Linked DNA regions of Homo sapiens. The protein of the gene in region 1 purifies or fractionates together with the protein of each later gene. This does not show direct contact. Each region holds a gene or a part of one and is shown on either strand. Other genes may lie near its edges. The genes, in order: TRIM16, LARP1 and KLC1.

What was found.
Region 2: the proteins of TRIM16 (region 1) and LARP1 fractionate together in Homo sapiens (co-fractionation; one large-scale study listed by BioGRID). This does not show direct contact.
Region 3: the proteins of TRIM16 (region 1) and KLC1 fractionate together in Homo sapiens (co-fractionation; one large-scale study listed by BioGRID). This does not show direct contact.

Annotation. Positions count from the first base shown.
Region 1 is NC_000017.11:15,674,267-15,677,918, reverse strand, and holds part of TRIM16 (tripartite motif-containing protein 16), read left to right. Parts: intron 1-197; 5' UTR 198-344; intron 345-638; 5' UTR 639-743; intron 744-3,652.
Region 2 is NC_000005.10:154,803,738-154,807,389, forward strand, and holds part of LARP1 (la-related protein 1), read left to right. Parts: coding exon 1-8; intron 9-463; coding exon 464-570; intron 571-2,143; coding exon 2,144-2,295; intron 2,296-3,652. UniProt on the Homo sapiens protein: RNA-binding protein that regulates the translation of specific target mRNA species downstream of the mTORC1 complex, in function of growth signals and nutrient availability.
Region 3 is NC_000014.9:103,695,211-103,698,779, forward strand, and holds part of KLC1 (kinesin light chain 1), read left to right. Parts: exon of another isoform or gene 1-1,945; intron 1,946-2,406; exon of another isoform or gene 2,407-3,569. UniProt on the Homo sapiens protein: Kinesin is a microtubule-associated force-producing protein that may play a role in organelle transport. The light chain may function in coupling of cargo to the heavy chain or in the modulation of its ATPase activity.

The DNA.
Region 1 (3,652 bases):
TGAGTTCTGTATATAAAATTACTGTAAAACAAAACTATCAAATTATGTCAGAGGGGTATACACATTTTAAGATTTTAAGATTCTTTAATATACGAGTCAATAAAATCTTGTCTTTGACACTGTGAACATAGTTTAATCTATTTCCTCTCCATCCCATCAGTCTCCCCTAAGTATGCCTCATGTAACTTTTTCTTCAGAACCCCATGCAGGTGTTTCAGGGCTTTATGTCATTCAAGGATGTGGCTGTGAACTTCACTAGGAAGAATGGAGAGAACTGGACCTTGCTCAGAGAGTCTTGTACAGGGATGTAATGCTGGAGAACTATAGGAACCTGGTCTCCTTGGGTGAGCTTGGGTCCTTCCACCCCAGATTGACCTTTCAGGATACCTTTGCCTTCTAAAGATTCCCTTGCTTCTATTAGGGAATGGTAACAAATGAGGCTTTGGTTATTTTCCCCCACAGAATCCAGATCAGATCCTTAAACTGTTTCTCACCCTACTTGGGTAGAAATTATTTAATTGCTTTTGACAATTAGTTATTTCGTTTTCTCCTCTCTAAAATGCAACAGAGTGGGACTGAGAATAGAGTGGTCCTTTCTCTTTTGAACTTAAAATTACATTCTGTTTGTATCTCTTCAGTAGGATTTCCATTTTCCAAACCTGGTATCATCTCCTAGTTGGAAGAAGTGGTAAGCCCACGAACACAAATGCAGGAGGGAGAGGTGCCAAGAAGCAGCGGTACACGTAAGTGAGAACAAGGCAGATTGCATCTTTAGAAATAAGAGTTAGGGGTTCTTCCCAAATCCTCCGGGCCTGTAGAAAATGTTGAATCCCCCTGCAGTCTCATCTTCACTTGACCACATCAGAATCCTAATAGCTTACCTCTTTATTTCTTCCCAGACTCAAGGAAGAGATACTTCCTCCTTAAAGTTATAAGCCCAACACATGATCCAGAGATCAGCTTTGTGCCTCATCCTGAGGCATTTTATGAGGCTATTCCCATTTCCTCTTTAGTAGCTGGAATCACTTCTTCATTTACTCTGTCCTTATCCTACCTAGTTTTCTGCTATATAAGAAATATGAAGAGAAGGAAAGAATTTGAATAATTTTAAGGATATAAAATTGACATAATTTGTTGTGTAGATTTGAGAGGTGAGGGAGTAACAAAGAAAATTCTCAGGTTTCGGCCAGGCGCAGTGGCTCACGCCTATAATCCCAGCACTTTGGGAGGCCGAGGCGGGCGGATCACGAGGTCAGGAGATGGAGACCATCCTGGCTAACATGGTGAAACCCCATCTGTACTAAAAATACAAAAAATTAGCCGGGCGTGGTGGCGGGCACCTGTAGTCCCAGCTACTTGGGAGGTTGAGGCAGGAGAATGGCGTGAACCCCAGGAGGTGGGGCTTGCAGCGAGCCGAGATCATGCCATTGCACTCCAGCCTGGGTGACAGAGCGAGACTCCATCTCAAGAAAAAAAAAAAAAAAAAAGAAAAAATTCTCAGGTTTCTGGTCTGGATGTGTAGGTGAATGGAAGTTCTCTTCCCTGAGATGGAAAACACAGGAGAAGTAGCAAATTTAGGGAGTGGAAGATGAGTTCAGTTTCTCTTAAGTTGTTTGAAGTGTCTATAATAAGTCTAAACCAGTGGTTCTTAACCAGGGGCAAGTTTGCCCCCCGGGGGACATTTGGCAACGTCTGAAGTGTGCTATGGGCATCTCGTGAGTGGAGTCCAGGAATGCTGCTAAACATCCTACAATGCACAGGACGGGGCCCCACACAAAGACTTGTCTGTCTAAAACGGCAACAGTGCTGCAGTTGAGAAAACCTGCTCTAAGTGGTAATGTCTGGAGGCTAGATGAATATAAGGACGACATGCCAAATGTATCTTAGTAAAGGAAAGAGATCTTAACTGGGGGTACAGATTTGGGAGTTGCCTGAGAATGGATGAAATTGAAGCCATGGGAGTGGATAATATCACCCAAAGAGCACAAAAAGAGTTACAAGAGAGCCTAGAACTCTAACGAACACAAACATTCAAGTATCTGCAAAAAAAAGTATATATATATGTATAGTATATAATATATATATTTTTATATTATATATGCAAATATATATGTATATACACATGTATATATACGTATGTGTATATACACATACGTATGTATACATACACATACGTATGTGTATATACACAGGGCTTCTCTCCAGTGTGGATCCTCTGATGTTGGGTAACATGGGCGCTTCTACTGAAGGCTTTCCCACACTCCTGACAATCAAATGGTTTCTTTCCAGTATGAACCCTCTGATGCTGGGTAAGAGATGAACTCTGGCTGAAGGCTTTCCTACAGTCTTTACAGGTGTAGGGTTTCTCTCCAGTGTAGACCTTTATATGTTTTGTAAGAGTTGAGCTCTGACTGAAGGCTTCACCACATTCTTTACACTTGTAGGGTTTTTCTCCGGTATGAGTTCTGTCACATAAATGTGGCAGAGCTTTCGTGTAGTTCAGCCCTCATTAGACACCAGAGACTTCACAGTGGAGAATCTCCCTGAATGTCTGGACAAATCCACTCAGACTCTTCATTTGGTTAAATACCAAAGAATTATACTTTTATAGGTTGTTACAGTGGCGATGCTTTATTATATTTTAAGGGATGAAAATCCCTCCTCTCCTACCCTGGTTATTTTCTCTTGCAAAGCTATCAGAATATCACAAATCCAAGTGAAGAAACACTGAACTGAAATCTGGACTAGCCTAATAGACTCTAAAGCTCAATTTTTATATGTATATGTGTGTATTTTTGTCTGTACCTGAAATGACTGCTGTCACCATGCAGTGATTTTACCCCCCTTCCCTGGCCTCAGGAATAAGCCAAGAAATTCTAGTTGTGCAGAACTGAGCTTGTTGCCCCTTCTTGTACTGATGGAAATAGTGCCATGTCCAAACAAAATAAAGAAGCTCATAGCTAATTACATATCCTAATACCACCTTCCTATAAAACTTTGCCTTAATCTGTAGTCATTCCTGCCCCCAGCTCATACCCTCCTGTGGGCAGCTTTTGTTTGCTTTACCTCATCCCACTGTTTTGTGATCACCCCCCGGGAGATGAGGGACTCAGTTAATAGGCCAGATGTCAAGACTGATGACATTTCACACACTAAGAGAACTTGAAAGTTTACTATTCATACACAGGGTTTCTGGGGAGAGCAGGATAGATGAAAGCTGGTCCAAAATGGCAAGAACAGAGAGGAGGCTGGGCCTTTAAAGTAGCTAGGGAATGGGGCTGGAGAGCATTCGATCTGTGGGCTTGAGGGATTCAAGCTTCCTGCCAGTGCTGGGAGCTCAGGAGATGCCCATGGATTTCTTTATCTAAAGCACCAGGTGTGCGGTGGGGCAGTGTGGGGGAGGGGAGAATAGAAAATGGTGGAAACTTAAATGCTGTCAATGGCCAGACATCAAAAATGGGGCCAAACTCTGTTACATCTACCTTTTCAGAAATCTTTTTTCACTTATCTCAAAATAGCTCTTTAATGTTATTGTGTCTTTTTTTTTTTTGAGACGGAGTCTTGCTCTGTCACCAGGCTGGAGTGCAATGGCATGATCTCAGCTCACTGTGACCTCCGCCTCCCAGGTTCAAGTGATTCTCCTGCCTCAGCC
Region 2 (3,652 bases), on another chromosome or scaffold:
ATGCCAAGGTGAGGCATTCCTGTCGGGCTGCTCAGAGTCTTGGGTCTACTTCATTGCATTCCAGTGCTTTGCTTCTCTCCCTTGCCTTGTCTGAGCTAAGGAAGTGCTAAATCCTTCACCTGCTCTGTGTTCTGAGGCTGGTGGGCTTACCTAGGATTAGGTAGCCACATCTGCAAAATATACTGGGTGTGGGAGTGGTAACCCCATGTTGAAAGGCCTAAGGAGGATTGACCAGGTATGAGTCCTTGGGCAAATCACTGCATTCCCAAACCTTGATTTCTTCACCTGTTTGAAATAGGCATACCAGTTCCTAGCTCACCACTGTGAACTTTATACGAGAATGAATATGAAAATGCTGTTGTAAAATGTGAGAGATCATGCCCATCTTAGTCCTACAAGTGCTTGATGCTCCTCAGAGTTGTAGGAGTACAAACAGTAACAAACCCTGGGCTAACCTTTGCAGATGCCTCGAAAAAGAAAGACAAGACACAGTTCAAACCCACCCTTGGAGAGCCATGTGGGCTGGGTGATGGATTCCCGTGAGCACAGGCCCCGTACTGCTTCCATCAGGTACCTGGGGCAGTGGGGGAAGAGTGATCAGGCTGCCTATGGGATGGGTGGGCGAGCCATGAAATTGACTGGACCAAGAAGATTGGTCTGAAAATTAAAGGGACCCTCATCTAAGAGGTTTTCAAAAAACCAGTGGTGTGGAAAGCTCAGCCCAGGACCTGGGAATGACGGGTAGGCTTTTTTCCTAAAGAAGTGGTGTGGCAGTCACGTGAGACCAGATTTTCATACATGCAGAGAGAAAATCTCTGAATTGGTTTCCAAGCCTGGCTATCTACTTTCTGTCTGAGGAAGAATAGCCAGGTAGTTGAATAAACAGATTTCTGGCAGTCTCTCTGAGCCTACTATGTCTTGGGAGGCTACTTGAAAAGTTTTAAAAATTAAAAAAATACATATTTATTGGCCCCAACCTGTATCTGCTGACCCTGCTTCTTGGGGTAGGGCCCACACTCTTTTTTATTTATTTCAGTAAGATGGCCCCAGTGTGTGTTTCCTGTTTCCCAAAGCAAGCTTTGAGAGCCACCTACCTATGACCAATGCTCTCTACTCCCTGCAGAGATGGCACAGACTGCAAATAGGCATGCTTTTGAAGAAAATATACAATTGATCTTTGAACAACGAAGGGCGTGGGGTGCCCAGCTGCACACAGTTGAAAATCCGTGTATAACTTTTGACTCTCCAAAAGCCTACTGTTAACCAGAAGCCTTACCAATAACATATAGTCAATTAGCACATGTTTTGCATATTATATGTATTACATACTGTATTCTTACAATAAGCTAAATAAAAAATATTACTAAGAAAATCACAAAGAAGGGAACAACAAACACTGGGGCCTACTTGGTGGGGAGAGGGAGGAGAGTGAGGTACAGTTTACCTACTTAACAAACCTGTACACATACCTCTGAACCTAAAATAAAAGTTAAAATCATAAGAGAAAATATTTACTGTTCAGTAAGTGGAAGTAGAATCATCATAAAGGTCTTCATCGTCGTGGTCTTCATGTTTAGCAGGCTGAGAAGGAGGGGTTGGTCTTGCTCTCTCGAGTGGCAAAGGGGAATCATCATAAAGGTCCTCATCCTCATGGTCTTCACATTGAGCAGGCTGAGAAGGAGGGGTTGGTCTTGCTGTCTCAAGAGTGGCAAAGGTGGAAGAAATCTGCGTATAAGTGGACCCACGCGTGGATCCATGCATTTCAAACCCATGTTGTTCAAGGGTTCACTGTAGATGGATTGACCCATGATGGCTCATTAAAAGGTTAAATGCTTAAAGTTAATAAATGGTTAAAAGCTCAAGTTTTATCATTGGACACGTTTCTGCCATTAAATAGTCTTATGACCCTGGATGAGTCTCCTAATCTCTGTAAGCCTCAGTATCCTCTGTAAAACTCTCTGAGAGTTGATGCAGAGTTAATCAGACCCATGGATATAAGTTAAAGGTCCGTAACTGGGCCTCCTTGTTTGATACCCTGTGAGAGGATGGATCTTGGCTGACAGAACGGATCAGAGGGACCCCTCCTGACATGGTGGGGCTGCTGTGGGGAACCTGGTGACAGTATTTTTTGTGGTTTCTGTAGCTCCAGCCCCTCAGAAGGGACGCCTACAGTTGGCAGCTATGGCTGTACCCCTCAGTCATTGCCCAAGTTCCAGCATCCTTCCCATGAACTGCTCAAGGAAAATGGCTTCACACAACACGTCTACCATAAGTATCGTAGGCGCTGCCTTAATGGTAAGAAGTGTGGGGGGCAGGAGATGAGCCTCTGGGCCCGTTATTTAGACCCAGAGTATAAGAGTTGGGGGATACGGGGATAGGTGACTCTTTTCTCTGACTTCAGAGCAAAAAAAAGACATGACATTATAGCAAGAAAGACTGAAGTTAGACTCGGGCCAGGTAGTTTTAAACTGTAGGAAGCTAGGGGGATATGGCACTCACAACGTTCGTGTTCTTTGATCTTCCTCTATTGATTATTAAAGCTGTCAATTAAGTATTTCCATATCTCTGGCAAGATTACTGACTCAGCCATTGTCAGGTCTAGTCCACTGTCCATCACAAAAGGGTATGTAAGAGGTGACATATGCTCTCTAGAACAAAGGTTGCCAAACTGGCCTGTGAGTCAAATCCAGCCAGTATTCTGTTTTCGTATGGCTTTGGAGCTAAGGACAGTTTTTACATTTTTAAGGGGTTGTAAGAAAAAAAGATTTGTGACAGAGACTATATGTCTTCTGTAAAGCCTGAAATATTTGTTCTCTGTCCCTTTACAAAAGTAGTTTGCTGATCCCCTCTCTAGATGATAGTGTAAGGAACGAGCCTGTCTAGATGCTCTTGTCTGTCCCTGCTCTTTTAGTATTCTGATAGGTTGGCTGTAAAGACGCGCAAAACCAATCTAGTCACCTGTAGTTATTAACTCATTCATCCTCTTTCATTCAACAAAACGTGGTTGCTAAATTCTTGATTCATCCACTTCACTTCTCTCTTTCTTACTCTATGTGTAATAACAGCTTTATTGGGATATAATCTACATATGATGGAACATACCTAAAGAATACAATGTAATAGCTCTAAGTGTACTCATATAGTTGTGTGCCCATCACCAGAATCAATTTTAGAACATTTTCATTACCCCCAAAATGCTATGCCCCTTACCAGTCATACTCATTATACATGCAAACTACTCCCCACCCCCAGAATCCTCCCAGCCCTATGAAACTACTAACCTACTTTCTGCCTCTAAGGATTTTGCCTATTCTGGACATTTCACATAAATTATACTGTATGTGGTCCTTTGTTACTGGCCTCTTCCCCTTAGTATATTTGGTATACTAACAAATACACAGCAAGGTTCATGTCATAGCATGCATCAGTACTTTATTCTTTTTATTGCCAAATCATATTCCATCGTATGGATGTATCACATTTTGTGTATCCATTCATCAGTTGATTGGCATTTGGGTTGTTTCTACTTTTTGTCTATTGTGAATGATGCTACTGGGCATATTCACATACAGGTTTCCTGTAGACGTAGTTTCTCCTTTATTTTGGTTAGAAGAGTAGTATTGCTGGGTCATGGGGTAACCATGTTTAACCC
Region 3 (3,569 bases), on another chromosome or scaffold:
CTTAGCACTTTGGGAGGCTGAGGCGGGAGGATCACTTGAGCCCAGTTCAAGAACAGCTTGGGCAACACAGCGAGTCCCTGTGTCTAGCAAAAAAAACCATGTGTATATATATATATATGTGTGTGTGTGTATATATATATATATATATATACATACATATATATACATATATAATTTGATGGGTTGTGAGAAGCCAACCCCCCCCAAAAAAAGGGGGGTGTAGAGCAGCTTCCCCTGACAGGTGCCGTGGCTGCCCCCGTAGTGGGCTATGTCTGTGCACAGGCGACAGGGAGGAGGGCTCCGGAGCTTCCCTTGTGGTGGGGGTGCCTTCTCCCTGTGAGGATGCTGAGCAGAGTTTGGAACCCAGACAGTTTCCCTTAGTGACAGTTATCTGGAAAGGAAAAAGGGCATTTAGAAGGAATAAACATAGGGCTGAATATGGAGTTGAATTTTAACCTCTTCAGACTGATGGGTGCAGACGAGGTTGTGTGGGGCCTCTGTGGAGCCTGCTGTGGCTTCCAGCCATGGGACTTTAGGGCCGAGGTGGCCTCTGCAGCACTGTGGCTGTGGGAGCACTGTGTGTTGGGGTAAGAGAAGCCAGGGGGCCTCCCTGAAGCCAGCTCATAAAGGAAGGTTCGTGTTTCAGAGGGAGGCGGCAAGGGAATCTGAGTACCTGAGTCCCCGATGTTTGAACCCTTCCACCCAATAGAAGTGCGGTGATTTCAGCCATTTCCCATCTGGCGGTCTGAATTTTTCCCTTCAGAGGAGAGAAGTGGTGGGCCCAGGCATCCCTCCTCCTGTGTGTGGTCGTTCTGGTGAGAGGAACCCCACGCGAGAGTCAGCACCTGTTTCTTCAGAGTTGCTGTCAAAATAATCACTGCGCCCCCGCCCCCCGCCCCCCCCCACAGCAGCCGTGTGTGCAGCGCCCGTCCCCAGCAACCATGGCATGGGAGCGTCTGGATCTGTGGGCGGACAGCATATCTCTGGGTAGTTGGTGCAGCTGTGGCAGAAATCAGGCCCCTGGGGAAGTCCTGTGACATGGATGCTTCCCTGAAGCAGCAGCAGTGTGTGGCTCAGGGGTCCTCAGAGGCCGGTGGTGCCCGCGGGTGGCACGGGGCACTCTCATGGGCAGCACTTGGTCTTGTGTTTACAGTATTGGAGGGATTCACATCGTTGTTTTCTGGATTAAGCTGCTAGGAGTATCATGTACTTAGAAATTCAGTGTTTATAGTAAGATGTATTAAACATTGCTAATGATGTATCGTTACAATGTATAACAGGTTTTCCATTGTCATAACTGTATGGAATTTTCTTGGAGGATGTCATTAGCTTCTGTTTGCACTGACTTGTGAGCTGTGTGTACGCTGTGGTCAGATTTCTGAATGCTGTAGAGCACTTACCAGCTCTGACCGTGTCTTGCTGGGGCCAGCAGGCTGCGTGTGCAGCGGGGCCAGCTGTCTCAGGGCTGATATGTAGACGTGTATTCTGTTTACAATTAGTTCCCCAACTCTGTGGGGAAGAACTTAAGCGGTTTTAGTGTTTTATAATATGGTGAGGCAATGAGGGTCAGGGCGCGTGGTCCCTGAGGGAGGGTCTTCAGGGCAAGACCCATGGCCCTGGCCTGGAACTGTGCTCCCCAGGGCGTGGTGCCTCCCTAAGGGGATGGTCAGTGTTCTGGGACTGACTGCCAGGCCAGCCCGTCTGCAGACTCCTGTGGTGGGAGTTCCCTGGGACGGGAAGCCCCTCGGCCCCTTCCCTCCAGGGGCAGGAACTGAGCCAGCATGGGCGGGGCCGGCCGAGCTTCCAGGCGTGTTTTCTCTGTTAAATGTACCTCTGTCTTTAAGCTGTCTCATTTTCTAATCGCTGGCATGTCTTGCCTAGAAAAGCATTTGGAATTGCTTATGTTCAATTACAGAAATAAAATGTCTTACTTGCCATTGTAGAATTCCTGCACTTTTGCAGAAAGGCTGTTTTGTAAAAATCCAACCCCAAAATAACTTTTTCCCATGTTCATGCCAGTGATTCTTAACTTTAGGGTCATAGAGAGCCTTGATAACATGATGAAGGTTTAAACGGATTGTCCCACCCTGGAAAACGGCAAACAGAAAAATTCTGCACAGTATGGCCCCAGCCCTTACCTTTCCCCCAACCAGTGCCAGCCCCCCTTCCTCCCACTGTAGGAGCACCCACAGGCTCACCCTGGGCACATAAGGTGGGGGGTGACAATTTCTGCCTCTGGGTTGTGGGAGGAGTCAAGCTACTTAACGGTTCTGGGCCTGAATTTCCCTACCTGCAAGTGGAGATGTAACAGTACCTATCCCTAGGAGTTGTGAGGAGAACATACTTCAATGTGTATAAATTACTCAGAGCAGTGCCTGGCAGACAGCAAGAAGCAGGTCCTGGAACTGCATCCATTGAACATTTATTTGTCAAAGGCCTGGTCTGTGCCAGGCAGCATGTGGAGGCACTGAGTGGGGGGTGGAGGGGGTTGTACGGTGGGAATCAAGGGGGTCACCACTGTGCCCATGGGGAGGCCACGCCACTCTGCCTGCTGGGTGGATATTTCAGCCTGTGCAGCCAGATGTGTTCCCAGGAGGCTCTGCTTTCCAGCCAGATGTAAGGCCTGGCCACAGTGTGGGACTGGGTCTGCACAGTGTGGGACTGCAGGACAGGGTCCTGCAGGTGGCCCTGCCAGGAGTCCTGCCATATCCCTACCAGAATACCACCCAGCCAGGCCAGGGCTGAGCTGGACGCCCAGACCCCCAGGGCCAGGATACACCGGGACCCTCCTTCCTCTCAACCTCGGATCCTCTTTGCCCAGAACTGTGTTCCCAGGTGGCTGACGAGCCTGTCACGTGCCAGCCCTGCGCTGCCTGCGCTCCTCTGACCGGCTGTGGTGCTGGCACAGGCCACACTACTAGAGACAAGGCAGTCCCCCCACCCCCAGGCTCTCCTGGACCCTGACACTGGAGGTTGGTGGGATATGCTTTCTCCACCTTGTACCACACTGAAGTTTTGTGGGGCACAGTGTGTGCCGAGGTGGGGCCCCCGGGAGCCAAGGACCCAGAGGTGGGTGAGGAGGAGCCGCCTGCCTGCAGCCCCACTGTGGCCTGAGTGGTGGGGGAGTAAGGACTGCCCTGTGTGCAGGAGGGGAGACCCTCGTGGGCACGGTCCCAAGGCTGAGGGGGTCTGAGGCCCCAGCCCAGGGGGCAGGCCTCAGACGCAACCCCAGTTGGGCTTCCATGTGGAGAGAAGAAGCAGGCGGCTCCCAGGGAGTCACTGTAGGACACCCCAGGCTCCAGCCCTGAGAATCACCTCTCCCCAAGGGCCAGCTCAGCAGTGGGGACCAGGTACCCAGCAAGCGGGCCTGTCCCCAGACCCAGGGAGAGGCAGAACATCCCCCCAGCTCAGATGGGGGTCAGTCTGTGGCCACCATCTTCGGATGAGAAAGTGGAGCCGCTGCCCTGGAAGAGCTGTGTCTGAACCAGGCTCCCAGCTGTGCCACGGCCCAGGCAGACGCGTTTTAAAGGCCCGAGCCCCGTGTGTCGGGGCTTCTCAGGCAGGGCTGT